Regions from separate parts of the Homo sapiens genome. Here region 2 is linked to region 1. The links come from fine-mapping of genetic effects on gene expression. Tissue or cell type: testis. Region 1 holds a variant in brackets; the other region holds the start of a gene. All regions are shown on one strand. Distances are from middle to middle.

What was found. PIP is the estimated chance that this variant, and not a neighbour inherited with it, causes the effect.
Region 2: it holds the start of MIER1, and the variant in region 1 is fine-mapped to the expression of MIER1 in testis (GTEx, PIP 0.94).

Annotation. Positions count from the first base shown.
Region 1 is chr1:66,982,809-66,991,076 of GRCh38, forward strand. It overlaps MIER1 (MIER1 transcriptional regulator), which reads left to right. Exons shown (of 14, transcript NM_001077700.3): 14 at 1,764-5,811. The coding sequence ends at 2,092. It also overlaps a transcript of SLC35D1 not described here. Among named protein-coding and RNA genes, the nearest start is that of MIER1, 62 kb to the left of the region's middle. RefSeq lists silencers at 1,728-1,777, 1,765-1,965. The variant A/G (reference allele first, on the strand shown) is at 4,544.
Region 2 is chr1:66,921,657-66,929,656 of GRCh38, forward strand. It overlaps MIER1 (MIER1 transcriptional regulator), which reads left to right and starts at 3,334. Exons shown (of 14, transcript NM_001077700.3): 1 at 3,334-3,439; 2 at 4,486-4,586. The coding sequence starts at 3,373. It overlaps DNAI4 (dynein axonemal intermediate chain 4), which reads right to left and starts at 3,200. Exons shown (of 17, transcript NM_024763.5): 1 at 3,006-3,200. The coding sequence starts at 3,175. RefSeq lists enhancers at 2,903-3,062, 3,353-3,632 and a silencer at 3,203-3,322.

The sequences.
Region 1 (8,268 bases):
GGAATAAACCAAACAAACAAAACTTAGGGCCCAGTAACTATGTCCTGGTCCAAGAAGGTTTATTGACTTGATGTCTAATGTTTGTCACGTCCATTCTGAAGTAGAATAAGATGCTGAGACTCTGACCTTGGGACTAACCGTATAGGCTCAAGGGAGGCAGACAGTTGGTACTACTATTGTTTTTCCTGTTTGTTCTTAACATATTAACACCAAATCATTTTCTTTTCCTTTTTAAGAAACTATTTGATGAGAACATGCTGTTAGGCTAGGAAAGTGTTCATAAGTTACTTATAAATTACTTGTAGCTCAAAAGCCACTCAACATTACGTACAGTCAAAACTGCCAGCTTTTTCAAAGGAAGGAAGGAACTTTTCATCCCAATGTTATATTACTTTTTTATATGGGGCTTTAATTAGTACTTTGAAATCTTACAGTTATTTTTGACCTAATCACAGTCGTCAGCTAGCTTTTTGGACTTGTTCCTACAGAATTGTTCTCTTCAATATATTATGATGCATAATCCCCATGTGCATTCATGATTTGAGTGCATTGAGTTGGTCAAAATAGAATATTTTCTTCTATCAGAATACAGTATTTGAGGCTCATCCTTTATGCCGAATATTTTTCAAGCAATTAAATTGTAATTATTCAGTGATGCACCCTATATTTTACTTCTTATCACCAAAATTTGCATTCCATTTTACAGTCAACTCTAAAATGAACTTTTGTTTTCTTTTATTAGAATAATTTTGCTTTTACTTTTCTCACCTACTATAGAATTTGTATTTACTTTTTAAGTAATTTGTATTTACTTAAGTAAATAATTTAGCACTTTCAAGTATATGCTTGGATAGTGCGGCATTAGTTTTTTAACATTATGACAGATTATTTAAGTCTACTTAGGTAAATAGTGTGTGATCATCTTTTTTTTCTTTTTGAGACAGAGTCTCGCTTTGTCGCCCAGGCTGGAATGCAGTGGCACAATCTCGGCTCACTGCAACCTCCGCCTCCTGGGTTCAAGTGATTCTGCTGCCTCAGCCTTCCGAGTAGCTGGGAGACGGTGCACGCCACCACTCCTGGCTAATTTTTGTATTTTTAGTAGAGACAAGTTTTCACCCTATTGGCCAGGCTGGTCTTGAACTCCTGACCTCATGATACACCCGCCTTGGCCTCCCAAAGTGCTGGGAATACAGGCGTGAGCCACTGCACCCAGCCTTGTGTGATCTTTTAAAGTACAGTTCCCATAGATTTACATTAAGAATAAAAAAGTCATGACATCTTGCTTTTATATGGCAGTTTACTCAAGCTTTTTAAAGAAAGAGCATTCATCTTGCTTTTACGTGGTTTTAGAATGTTGAAAACCTTTTGTTAAATCTGAGTAATTTACTGCATTTTCCATTAATTCAGCTTAGTTAGACTGCTGGATCCAGTGCTTGTTTGCTGTCACATATACCTAATATGCTTTTAACATATGCCAAATTCTGTTCTTAGTTCTTTACATTTATTAACTTATTTAATTTTCACAACAACCCTGTGAGGAATATCTATTATGATCTTCATTGTATATATGTAATGAAATGGAGATACAGAAAGAGTAAATAATTTGCCTAAGGCGACATAGCTTATAAGTAATAGAGCAAGAATTTAGACTATGTATTTGATACCTTGCTTCCTTGATAACAATAACTACAAGCTGTTTTATAATAGTTTGCAAATTTAACTTTTTTCTAATTGTGGTTTCATTTATATTTCTTTCAACTTAGGAGTGTCATCTAATGGACCAGGTGAAATATTAAACAAAGAGGAAGTAAAAGTTGAAGGGTTACACATTAATGGACCAACAGGTGGAAATAAGAAACCACTTCATGCAGATATGGATACTAATGGTTATGAAACAGATAACCTTACCACTGACCCAAAACTTGCCCATATGACTGCAAGAAATGAAAATGATTTTGATGAAAAAAGTGAGAGACCTGCCAAAAGGCGAAGGGTAAACAGCAATGGAAAAGAAAGTCCAGGTTCTTCTGAATTTTTCCAAGAAGCAGTCTCACATGGGAAATTTGAAGAACTTGAAAACACAGATGACTAAATTTTAGACCTATTTTACTTTCTTTGGAGTAAATTCTGGTGTGACTAAAATTTTCAGGGTTGATGGGTTACCTTAAAAAGTTGATTTCCTTGAAGCAGTTTGAAAATTTGAATTGAGTCTTAACTTTAGGAAATGAGGTTTCATAATTCTGCCTTTTGCAGATTTTTTTACTTTAAAGCTGTCAGACTCTTTTAAGGGTATTTTAAAAATTAGTAAATTTGAATGAACTAAAGATATATCTCTACCTTCTCATTTGAATATCTTTAGTTCATTCAGATTTACTAATTTTGGTAAATCTGAATGAACTAAAGATGTATCTGTACCTTCTCATTTGATGTATTAATCATAAAATTTCACTACAAGGTAATTTTTGCTTAGTTTGATGGATGAATGGGAAACTCAAGTCCAAATTTCTGCTTAATACCAATTTCTCTGAGTTTCTTGAAATGTCTTTAAAACAGACATTTTTCTCACCAAACAGTTTGAGTATCTTTATTAAGGAAACCCTTACGAATCCTGAAAATTATGCTAGCATGATTTTTTTATATATAGAAGTTTAAAAATAAACCAGGTCAGGTTTGTATATGTAAAATTGTTGACATCAATGATGTCTTTCCATATTCTTATCTGGGCTTAAGAAATACATTCTGTATTTTTCCAGATTCTTTGTAGCCTTTGAAAGATTTTTACAGTACATATGTCTTGACTGAGCTGTCCTTTCTTAATACAAAAGCGTGTATAATTTTCTTAACTTGTACAGTTGGTAAACTTTTATGAGAGGAATTGTTATTCTGAGTCTGTCAGCTTTCATTTTATTTTGCTAAGGTTTTTCTAATGAATTTTTAAGTGTTTGTGTAGTAATTAAGTCATATTTCTTATCCAGGTGGTTAAAGCATTCATAAAGGATTATAAAATTTTTTTTTTTTTTTTTTTTTTTAAATTTCTACTTAAGGGCAAGTAATTTGAGAATTCTGAAATTAAGCATGATGCTTAGATTGCAGTTTGTTTTGCATTTGCTATAATTTTCAAAATTATTTTTGAAGCAAGACAAAAGTTTAATGTCAGCTTAAGTGCTTAAATATATCATGCTGACCAGAATCCTGTTATTTTTATATGCATCATAAAATTTCCCATTTCTGCATTAAATAAACAGAGGAGGGGGGTCAAGTGATACTTAGATATTGGCACACACAAGGAACAACTGTTGGCAGGCAGTATCGATTTTATGAAGAGAAAGTGAAGTTTGAAAACTTTTCAAACTTTTCTAGTTACAATCCAATTTTTCAGATTTGATAATGCTTTTCCAAAGTGAAAATAAGATACACAATAATCATTGCTCTGTGTGATTACAGATAGGATTATCCATCTGCATAGCCTTGTAAAAGTGCCATTTTATTTTTAGTGCTAAATTCTTGTTAAATAATGTAGTTTTATATAGCTGATAGACCAACCTATATCCAAACTTTTATAAAATATTAATTATTCTTGTTTTTCTCACACAGGCATACTCCAAATGCTTCTTCCAGTTCATTTTTCAGCCATCAGTTCAAGAGCCAATGCCTTTTTAAAATAAAGCTTCTGTGGTCTTGTTTTTAATGGCTCAACTGTCTGATGTAATTGAGTGAAGGTTTGCACTGAGAAATTAGCATTCAGGCCTTACCCCCATGAAGTATTACTGTTAACATATGTTCGGACTGCTTCCCTTCACCAATGTGAACAACTTTTTTTCCCAAACAGTGTTAAAAGCCACTTTGCAACACTTGACTTCATCTTAATGTACATTCACTGTTGTTACATACATATCTAAGTAAATCAAAGTTTTGGGTGGAAGTGTTGAGAAGTATGAGTTTTTTGTTGTTTTTGTTTTACTTAAAACTTTTAATTTATCCAGAATGGCAGTAGCTTTAGCAAGCAGATGGTCACAATCTGTTTTCTAAATCATTTTTTATTAAATGAATCCAAAGTATCCTAGCTCTTTGTCAAAGATGGTCTGTAGAAATGTTTTTAAAGATTAGGGATGCTGTACTTTTTGAATTGTTGCAGTGTTGGAGATGCCATTTTCACCTTTTTAAAAAGATGCATTTTATTTGCAGGTTTGTGAAGTTCTTGCAAACTCTTACTACAGAAATGTTTTAAATACATTCTCAGGCATGTTTGCAAAAATATGGCACATGTATACATTTTAGGAAATGTTACTTTTGTTAATCTTTAAAAAATACACCTAATGAAAGACATTCCACTATTATGCGTAATGCTCAGCTTTTTGTAAAGAAATATTTAATTGTATTTTGTGTTTATACAGGTATTTCACACAATAATTTGTTCTTAATGCAGCCACTATAACTTGATAAGTCATTGCACTATTTAAAAAGTTTTAGTAATATCATGAATTTAATTTGCTTAAGATTTAGTACATTTCAGAACTTTTGAACTTTTGACAAATTGCATTGG[A/G]AAAAGAAGTCTGTTAATAGTGATTTAGTCTCCCCGCCTCATTCCCACCCCCAACAAAGCACTATCATTTTCATTTGGAATGGGTATTTTCTGTTTCATGATGTATTTTCAAATAGAGTTCAGGATCTGCAATTCAGTTCAACACAAGTTTGTTGAGCTTTAAAATGTATTTGAAGTAATATTTAAATAGGCATTTAAAATTTCAAATTAGATGTTAAATTTATGCATAGTAATTTTGCACTGTAAAATAATTCCCTTCTCCCATTCCTTGTCTGCCATTCTGAATATGCTTATTAAAATATTTTTTTAAACATATTTGCCTACATAATACTGTGTGAATATTTTCATTAGATTAATTCACTAAGATTTTATTAGAGATTGTTTGAATGATGCATGTTATTGACAAGGCAAATATATATATATACACAGTCTGTTTCTTCTATTCCTAGACATATTGCACTACTTTTTCAGTGGTTCTTGGTCCCCTTTACCACATCTTGGGTGATGTATTTTTGTCTTCTTCCCCTTTGCCACAAGAGATCCTTTCAGTCCCTAGACCTCCATTCACTCTGTTTCTCTTCTGCTGGATTATATAATTTAAAAATAATGTGTTCCCGTATTTTGTAGTGGAGTTCATATCACATTATGTTTTGCAAAATAAAACTTGTTTTGTCACAATATTTTCTTTGCTATCGATGGATAATTAGGAGTGGGCACTTGGAATAACTGAGGGCTGGTGAATATAATAGGCAATATTTACATGGGGTGTGTAACTAAATACCAAATCAGATAGTAAGGTTTTCCCAACTATAATCCATATTCATGAAAAATGCCAGTGTGGAAAACCATGTAACATACAGAAGAACAGGAGTTTCCAAATTTTAACCTTTTATTCTAAAAATGACTCTCTTCTCTCAAAATGACTTTTTCTGTATCACATAATTCTACTGATACAACTTTTTACCGTAAAAATTAACTCTCTTCTTTAATATCAAGTTCATCCTTTGCAGAATCTTAAAGGGTTTTCCACACATCCATCCACCCACTTACAGACTGATTTCATGTATCTGAATATCTGATTAACCTTTCTTTTCTAATACCAGTTTTCCATAAACTCTTGTCATGTACCCTTAGTATTGTGCTGATCTTTTGCCAACTATACGGACGTGGAGTTTTTCCTTTTCAGAATATGATTATTTTCAATTTGTCTTTAGTTAGTATAAAGAATTATAGAATGTATAATGTAATTAAAATGTCATTTTGCTTGCTCTTGAGTAAGAAGTAATTTGAACACACTTTTAAAGGCTACTTATTCTGTGAAGAATATTGAAGAATTGCCATGTAAACGAGATGAGATGGATTCTAATTGTCCAAATTGATGGTGACAGTTTCACATTTAAATGTCAATGATGACAAGCTTTCATTATGTTTCCATATACTCTAATATCCAGCAAATATTTCGGCCTATACTTGTACCAGGTACTATGCTTGCTTGGCTTGTGGCTTCAGAGATGCGGCATGCCCTGTTCTTCAAGAAGGCAGCAAAGTGTTAATGGTAGAAAAGTAAAGTGTATTCTGAGTACAGAGACAGCAAAAAGAGGAATAGGCACGATCTCAAGAAAATGAGTTTACCTTCCTCTTTGCCATGTAAGTCTAGCTAAATATTTTTCTTTTGTCAAACTTCGTATTTGCTGGAAATTAACCAACATGAAATGCATGATTTTCCCTAAGAAATTTTGTCTTTTAAAAAAAAAATTTCCTGCAGAGCTGGTTCTACCATAACAGCAGCTGTGGATTATTTAGGACTCATCCCTTTTTTCTTGTCATTCACTGTTCCATGAGCACTACTATTTATTAGGTGGAGAATCGCCTGATTTTCTGAAGTTTGGAAGAGAGGACGCCTAATGCAAATTTGGCCTGGTTATAGAACATTCACTTTTTGGTATTCTCATCGTTGTTAACATGAATGGTTGACTGAATGTAGAGCTGGCTGTGTTGTTCTGCACACTGACTGGAATTTGTAGAGTTCAGGTAGTTCTAAAATAAATGGTTTCACTCAGCAAAGTTAGATGATCCCTGAAATTGACTTTGGATTAATATGAGGAATATATAAACTTCTAAAAAATTATTTGAGACGGTCTCAGTTGGCTGCGTAGGCTGGAGTGCAGTGGCAAGATCATGGCTCACTGCAGCCTTGACCTCCTTGGGCGCAGGTAATCCTCCCACCTCAGCCTCCTGAGTGGCTGGGTTTACAGTTGTGCACCACCATGCTCAGCTAATTTTTTTTATTATTTGTAGAGGTGAGGTCTCACTATGTTGCCCCGGCCACTCTGGAAATCCTGGGCTCGAGTGATCCTCCCGCCTCAGCCTCCCAGTGTTGGGATTACAGGCGTGAGCCACCATGTCTGAGCTTAAACATTTTTAAAAAGAAAACATACGGGCCTTAAATTGGGGGTGGTTTCTTCCAGAAACAAGATCAGGTAGAGAACTGCATCAGAATAGATTGATCTGAGCCACTTTAAATTCTTGACCAGAAAATCTAGATTTAGGTTAAGAGCTTGTTCCCAAGAGGGGCTTTTCAAATTCCTTAGTCTACTCTTGTCACCAGCTGTGCTTTAGCTGAGTGAACATGAGAAACTAGTTCTGCTTAGGAGCTAATAGTGGTGCCAGTCATTCTAAGTGTATCCTTTTTTATTATTTTTGAAAGGTACTCCCTTAATCCCCTCTAAGCACATATTTGTACATGACAGAAATTTACTTGGGTGGCTGGTGGTTTTGAGCTTTCAAACATCCTGAATTATAAGCTTTATGAACTGCTCTGCTGTGTGGCCTCCTTTGTTGTCTTATGCATTTGCCTCTAGTGTTTAGTAGACAAATGTTTGCATTTAAAAAACACACCATGAACATACGTGGACTACATCTGCAATTTTTCTTTTTTCCGGAGACAACGTCTTGCTCTGTTGCCCATGCTGGAGTGCAGTGGTATGATCACTGCTCACTGCAGCCTCAACCTCTCTGACTGAAGGGAATCCTCCCACCTCAGCCTCCCAAGTGGCTGGGACAGGTGTGCGCCACCACGCCCTAATTTTTATTTTTTTGTAGACAGGGTTTTGCTGTGTTGCCAGGGCTAGTCTCAAACTCCTGGGTTCAAGCAATCCGCCTGCCCCAGCCTCCCAAAGTGTTGGGATTACAGGTGTGACCACCACACCTGGCCACAAAATTCTTGTAGCTAGTGCTAGTAGGTTAGAATAAAACAACTCACTTAGGATTGCAGCAGATGGGAGTTGTAGTAGAACCTTTGAAAACAATGATACCAGTTTTGGCAAAGGGATCTATTTTCGTGTATATGTATAGTTAGTTAGGAAAAGTAATGAAGGTCATATGCCAAAAGTAACGGTTGTTTTTGAGTGGTGGACTTAGAGTGGCCAGACCCCCTTATTAAAGAAGTCTCATAGCACTTGTCCCAGGTGCCATTTGGTTTTGCATGACTATTTCCCCCTCCGACAGTAAGCCTCCTGAAGGGGAGGGTCGAGTCTGTTTTCCTCACCATCATACACCCACATCCAAGCACAGTGCCTCTTCCCTTACTCACTGAACATATTAGCATATAGGTTATAGCATAGCCTATAATCATTTGTCTCTCCTGCTTAGGGCCTAACTCTGGCTACTCTTTCCAGTGATTGTTCTATTCTGCCTTTGGGGATACATCCTGAGTTGCCCTTTGT
Region 2 (8,000 bases), 61 kb before region 1:
CAATTTAATTTTACATTAAAATTTCTATACCTTAAGGTGAAAACAAAAACCATACAAGATAAGCAGTAACCAATGTTACTGAAGTAAACACTCATTCATTCAGCAAATATTTATTCAGCACCTTCTTCAATCTAGGCAATGGATACAGTAGTGAACAAAACAAAAATCTCTGCCTTTTTGGAGTACTATCCTTAGGTGAAGATGGATGAATAAGCAGGTACACAATAAACTTGTAGAAATTTTTTTTTTTTTTTTTTTGAGGTGGAATCTCACTCTGTCGACCAGGCTGGAGTACAATGGCAGTGATCACGGATCACTACAACATCACCTTCCCGGTCTCAAGTAATCTTCCCACCTCAGCCTCCAAAGTAGCTAGGACTACAGGCACATGCCACCACGCCTGGCTCAATGTTTTGTAGAAATGGGGGTTTGCCATGTTGCCCAGGCTGGTTGTGGACTCCCAAGCTCAAGTAATTTGCCCACTGGTTGTGAACTCCCAAGCTCAAGCAATTTGCCCACTTCAGCCTCATAAAGTGGTGGAATTACAGGCATGAGCCACTGTGCCTGGCAGGAATAAATTTTATGGAAAAATTCAAGCAAAGGTGAGGGACTGAAGAGCTCCAAAGGTGAAGTATTATTACTTTATATGGGGTGGTAAAGGACTCTTTGACACAGTTACCTAAAGGAGGTGAGTCATGAGGTTATCTGGGGGCACAATATTCCAAAAAACTGCATATGCACAGGCTCCAAAGGGGGAATATAGTGTGTCTGATGTGTTGTGGGACAACGTGGGATGTAATTAGGCAAGAGGAAGAGTCTATAGTGAGATCCTGTGGGGCCCTGTAAAGAGTTTTACTGAGTGAAATGGAAAAAACTTGAGAAATGTTTTGAGCAGAACCACATTGATTACTACCTGGAGGGTGTTGGCAAGGAGACTATTTAGGTGGGTATCACAATGTAACACAGTGATTTACATGGGAGTGGTAGTCTGGATTTATTTGGCAGGTAGAAATGGTAAAATTTGCTTATAGAGTGAGGTATAAGATAGAAGTCAAGGGTAATCCCAAGGTTTTTCCCCTGAGTAAGTGAAAGAGTGGAATTTGCCATTTACTAAAATGAGAAAGATTGCAGTTAATTAGAAAAGACAGAAAATATTATATATTTGGTTTGAGATGTTTATTAACTTATAAGTGCAGGTGTTTTTTCTTAAAATCTGTTTTCTTGGGAGAGGTCTTAGCCAGAGATTAACATTTGTGAATCATCATTATAGGTGATATTAAAGACATCAGAGTGAAGAGGTTTATGGACTAACCCAGCAATACCAATACAGTCCTGGATCATCAACAATGAATCACATATACAATGGTGATCTGGTAGCAGAGCTGAAAAATTCCTATTGTCTAACAACGTTGTAGTTGTCACAACATTCAAGCACAAGACATTACCTTTTCTATGTTTACATACACAAATACTTAGCATTGTGTTACAATTGCCTACAGTATTCAGTACAGTAACATGCTATGCAGGTTGGTAGCCTAGAAGCAACAAATGCATTTTCATCATTATGCAAACACCATTTAGTGTACTTACACAAACCTAGATGTATAGCCTACTATAGCTTAGGTGTACAGTCTACTATACAATTGTAGCCTAGGTGTATAGTAGCCCATACATCTACGTTTGTGTAAGTACACTAGAAGATATTTGCAAAATGCTGAAATTGGCTAACAAGGTATTTCTCAGAAGGTATCACCATCGATGCATGACTGTATTTAGTTATGGTAGTGAGGAACAGATACCAGCAAAGGATCTGGGAAAGGTGAAACCATGAACCAAGACAAGAACTAGGAAGAGTGGTTTCTCAGAACCCAAATAAAGCTTTTCAAAGATCGAGAAGCGATAAACCCGACCGACACTGCTTCATTCAAAAAGAATGAAACTGTGGATCAGCCATTGTATTTGGTTGCATGGCTATTGCTGGCTTTCATAGAAGCTGTTTTGATGGAGTGGTAGGATGGACAAAAGCGTGAGTACCATATTCAAGAGAGAATGCAAGGTTCTCTCCCAAGAACTCTCAACAAGTTCCGCTGAAGAAAGATTAGCTGAGGTGGAGGAGATTGGAGAGGGGAAGAGAAAACAAATTACTTAGGGAATTTTGGGGGAACTTAGTGGGCAGCATTACGGGCAGCGCTAAGGAACCATTTAAAGTAAGACAAGTCCACACAGCTGTGTGCTTTTCTACAGTCTTGTTCAACTGCTGCATAACAACAGAATGTTGGAAGCAGGAATTAGTTTTAAAGTAAGATGGTATTGACGAGACGACAATAAAATACCTCTACTACAGAGCACAGCAATGTTCGGCCTGGTGGCTCACAGAAGCTGAGGCTCTTGAACGTCTGGGCACAGCATGAAAGCATCAAGCTTGAGAGACTGCAGGCCTTAACAAACTAGAAGTGCTAGAACGATGGTTCTAAACCAGGTCTTTTCTCACACAGCAAGCACAGCAATAGAGATTTATTTTATCTTATTTTTTAGACAGAGTCTCGCTCTGTTGCTCAGGCTCGAGTGCAACGGCACGATCTCGGCTTACTGCAACCTCCGCCTTCCGGGTTCAAGGGATTCTCCTGCCTCAGCCTCCCAAGTAGCTGGGATTACAGGCATGTGCCACCACGTCCGGCTAACTTTTTGTATTTTTAGTACAGACGGGGTTTCACCATGTTGGCCAGCCTGGACGCTAACTTCTGACCTCAGGTGATCCACCCCACTCGGCCTCCCAAAGTGCCGGGATTACAGGTGTGAGCCACCGCGCCCAGCCCAGTAGAGATTCTTTTAAAGACTGCGGTAGGTCGATAAAGGAGACATTGTGGCCTAGGAGCTTCAAGGTCTACAGACTGAACCCAGTTAGGGTAGGGCCCCTTTCCAAATCCAGAAATGGTATCTATTAATAGAAGGGCTCCCTCCGGGTCCCAGGGGGATGGACTACGGTTTTTAGCGCCGGAACTTACAACCCGAAGTTCTGCTGCTTGTGACTGCCTGCCGGAGAGACTGGCATGGTGGCGACCAGCTGGGGAGTGGTGCACCACCCCTTTTTTTGGCCGCCTCTGAAGTCCCTGTACCCCCAAGCTCCTCCGTTAGCGGCTCGGGCCGAGGCTCCGGAATGTTTGCCGGGCGTCATGGCGACGGTGGAGCCCTGGCTCAACAAGCGGCCGCGCGGTTGGCTGGCGGCACGAGGCCGAGGAGGAGGGCGGAGGCGGAGGGGAGGGCAGAGGGTTGGTGGAGCTGGAGGAAGCTCCGGACGACGACTGGAAGAAGGAGGCGGGCGGCCCGGGCCTCAGGCCCCTCCCAGGCTCTGAGTCTCCCGGCTGCAGGCGGATGGATGGGGCTTCTTCAGGCGGTGGCGGCAGCAGCGAAGGTGGCGGCGGCAGCAGCGGCAGCGGCTGTAAGTGCAGCCTCCACAAGCCATCTCTCCCCTTCTATTCCAGTTTGGGATGAGGGGCTCCTGAGGTGTCCTCAGTCCCCTTTCTCTCCTTCCCCTCCCCCACGGCAGTGTACCGCCCGGAAGACCCTTAACTTCCGGGGAGGGGCTGCCGCAGAACGCGCCTGGCTTGCTCTCCGCCGGCTGCCAAAGGCGCATGCGCAGCTTCCTCCCTCTGGCCATCGACTGCCTCCCAGCGCCGCCTTTTTGCCTTCGCGGTGGTGGCGCCGCGCTGGGAATCCGCTGCGGAGTGAGTTCGCCTCGCCCCGTTCGCTTCGGTCCCTGATCCCAGTCGGGGTGGGGCTAAGCTGACCACCCTGCTGTGGCTCCGCCTCTTTCTCCTGTATTTCCCTCACTTGTGTCCCATCCCCGGGAGGCTCTCGCTTGCACTGCAGCCTTTATGGTGAGCAGCGCCCTGGGCCAACTTGCCCTTTTCGGATGGAGTCAGGGAGGGAGGAGAGACTCGAATAGGGTATTACTGTAAGGAAACGAGGTCCTCCTAGCGCGTGGGAGGATCCCTTGGGACAGATGCCCGCCGCTCTTTACTCTTGTTCTTTCAGCTTGTAGTGGCTAGGTCCCTGGCCTGGAGCCTATCTGTGGTCCCTGCATGCTGTGTAACCTTGAGCGAGTCACTATCCCTCTCTGGGCTTCAGTTTTCCCTATTTAAAGCTTCCTCCAACGCTAGAATTCTGCATTTCTGCAGAAGAACTTATGTAATTACAAGATTGACTTGGCTATTGAGGCCGCTTCACCAAGATGACCCGGAGTTGACTGAACCTTCTTCACTTATGGGTGGAATGAGGCGACCTATTTATTGGGTCGCTTTTATTCCTTTATCATTAGTTACAAATTGCATGACTTAAGGCTCATTAAATGTTTTTCTAAAATTGTCATGGGATCCTTGTCCTGATTCCCGACCATCTTTTTAAAAATGCGAAACAGGGTGGATGGTGAGCTTGTATCATCGTTTCTGTCTCCTTGCTACTGAGGCTCTCTTTCCTTTGATCCAGATGGTGTGGTCGCTCGATTCTCCCAGTGCCTGGCTGAGTTTCGGACGTGGTTAAGAACCAACTGGTTGAGGTTCAATGCAGACAAGACGGATGTGATGCTGGTAGGCAGGGGTACACTTGGAGATTAAGGGAGGGAAAATCCAAACTCCCTCAAGTAATATAAGATTATATTACTCTTCTTATATGTTCCAGTGTTTGAGAACTGATGGGCCAAAAATTTCCAGAATTTGGGTGAGATAAAAATAACATGTCATCAATGTAAAAACCATAATCATAGTTTGTAATATTCTGATAAAATGGGGCCACTGGATAAAACTGTAAAAATTATGAAAAGAAAATCCAAAACTGTTATTTGAAGAACCAAAAGCCTATATAAGTGTTTTAGAGTGGCATTAATAACAAAAAATGAAACTAACGAAAGATGATGCTGATTGTCACTATAGATGTGGGGCTTCCAAATGTAATAGGCTAAGTTTTTTAGATGTAGGTATTTTCAACCAAATTAGTAATTATCCATAAAATTTTACCACCACATCATAAAGACATGGTGTAGGCTGTTGCTTTTAAATAAAAATTTCAGGAAATAGTTTATAAACTAATCTCAAAAGAGACTCATGGACGCTGAAAATTGTTAGATATAGAATTTTTTAGTTTTGGATGTGTTGTATTAATCTATTTCAGTCAGCTAACCCCAGAGTCTAAATTGTTATAAGTACAGTATTTTCTTGGTGCATTTTGAGAGGTACCTTTTTGGATTGCATAACAGATAGGTTTATATAGTATATATATATATGTTACTTGTATTTGAATCAGGTGTTGGTACTGAATAAAAGGTTATATTTCTTAGGTATATGTAAATTGCCAAAGAAGTTTGTTCATTGGTTCGTTTAAGGTACTGGTTGAAGTAAGATTGTGCTCCTAAATGCTTTTGTTAAAAGCATAATAATAACTGAGGGGTTTGTGTGTGCGTGCGCCTTATAGCCTCTATAGAATTGTTCAATAACTTTTGAATGGAAGATTCAGTAAATTGCTTACAAATGATTTATCAATATAATAGCAGTTTTGAGTAGCTTAATGTCATAAAAATTAATGTTACTTTGCCTGAAAATAAGGAGGCTTTTAGGTGGGGAATAGGAGCTGAAGAGGCATTTATTCAGGCTTTGTATAGTGGTTTTTTGTTTTGGGACATTAATCACAAACCTCACATAAAATTGGAATTCAGCACACTTTTTTAGTTTAAAAATTTTATACACAATTCCAACAGAACTACTGTTTTGGATATCACATTAATAAATAACAAAGTGTAATAATTTTAAGCAGACACAATTAATGGTGCATTTTCTTATGCCTTTAGCTCTCTCATGTCCTATTTTCAACTCTTCTAGTATGAATAGGCTTTAAAAATAAATTTTTTTTTGTTAACCCAAGTATAAATATTAACTGTTTGCATTTGGATACAAAGAAGATATCTGTTGAATTAATCCAAAGTGCTGAAGAACTAAGGGTAATGGATGGAAACAACAAGGAGGTAGATTCTGGCATAATAAAAGAAAGAATGTTTTAAACATTTGAACTTTTTTTGAAAAGAGCAGCCTTTTTATGAGATATAGTGAGTCACTGGAGGGGTTTAAACATAGGCAGAAAGCCTGGTAGTAGAAGCATGATGAGAGATTACTATCTTGACAGGGTAGAGAATTGACTAAAAGATCTCTAAGGTCCCATCCAACACTAAAATTCTATAACTAGTGAATAGTTAATTTTTATATATTTAATACTGAAGAGGGTAAGTAAGCGTTTTGAGAAAGACTTTTCATTCCGTAAGGTGGCTCCTGAAAATTTTACAGTTAGGTGTATCACTAAAATAAAATAATAGTGGAAGGATACTGAATTCAGTGGTAATGTGTTACCTATGAATTGCAGTATTAGAGCTGTTTCTTTTTTATAATATCTGAACCTAAAAAACCCACTGAATCCACATTTATAAAAAGGGGAAGGGGAAAAATGTAGAGAGTTTTTTTCCCTCAATAATAATAATACCATTTAAAACTAGTAATATTGATACACAATATTAATAAACTTAAAGAGTTATTTAACAGTAAGATAGATACCCATTCAGAAATGTTTCAGACTTCCATTTTCCTGACAAGTTTAGGATTCATTCAGTAGGTTAATAGACTATGATCCCCTGCTCTTTATCATAGTTGGGATTTCTGTTGGTAGTTTAACTGAAGAATCAAAGATTCAGTGTACTTAAGCAAGTTATTTCTGTACCTTGTATTGTAACACTTTTAATTTTCCTTTGGTAGCCAAATTTCATAAATTAGCTTTCATATGTTAATGGAAAACCCTCCTTCATCTCCATGGTATAAAGCCTGAGTTTGTACCTCTAGGCCCCTAATTGTGTCTGTACCCACCTCAGGTCCATGTATATCCATTGTTCTTTGCCTTCAGCTCTTTTCATTAAGTGTATTGATTGAAAACTATTTGGATATGAACTGACACTTTTAAAAAGTCATTTTTATTTCAAGTCCAGAGGATTGACATAATTCAACAGGGTAACTATTAGAAACTATATACCTCTGCTAAAATATTTATTCCCCCAAGGAATCCTGAAAAACACTTTTATATAAGTTTTCTAAAAAATAAAATGAAAATACTGTACAGTACAGTTAATGGTAAAAATTGTTTGTAGATTTGGGAACCTTAAAGTTTTCCTTTCTCTTCTTTCCCTTGCTTTTCTTTCAGTAGAAAATGTGCATCAGATGTTTATGTTTAATTGGTTTACAGACTGTCTGTGGACTCTTTTCCTGTCAAATTACCAGGTAATGTCCTTTCACTTAGCAGCTACTTCATATATCTGTAAATGCAGTTTATTCATGCACAGATTATTATTGGACATAACAGTTTCAAATTAACATTGAATCTTTGGAAATAGGAAAATGCTTGATAGAGTCTAGAATTTTAAGGGAATATAAATAATTTAATAGCCTCCCCTATATTGCATTATAAGTTAAGTATTAACTTTAAGAAAAATTGTATATGTACACATTTATGCAATGTAGTATTGGTTCACATTATTTGGAAGGAATGAATAATTCTCGTATTTAAATGGTTGATTTTGGTAGCCACTTTTGAAACTGCATTAAGAGGAACCCTTGAAGATTAGGAAAAAAATCCCAGTCTTTTGAAATAAAGACTTTCAAACTGGTTTAGTAAAATATGTTAGTGACTGTTTTAATGTCACCTTTGTGTTATTCAGTATGTGCCTTAGTATAATGGAAGTGAAACATGTTAGTTACTTTGAAATCATTGGTTCTGGCCATCATCAGCATTGGCATCACGGCCAATTGGCAGCTGTAGGCCAATACATTAAAATAAACTTTCAAGTTACAGGCATTTCAGGCATTGCAAATAAGTAGGTTCTCCCTCCATGCTACTAAATAGATGATATCCATAAAACAGTCAATTTTCAGTATTTTAAATTTTGTCTAGTTGTGCAAAATTCAGTACATAAC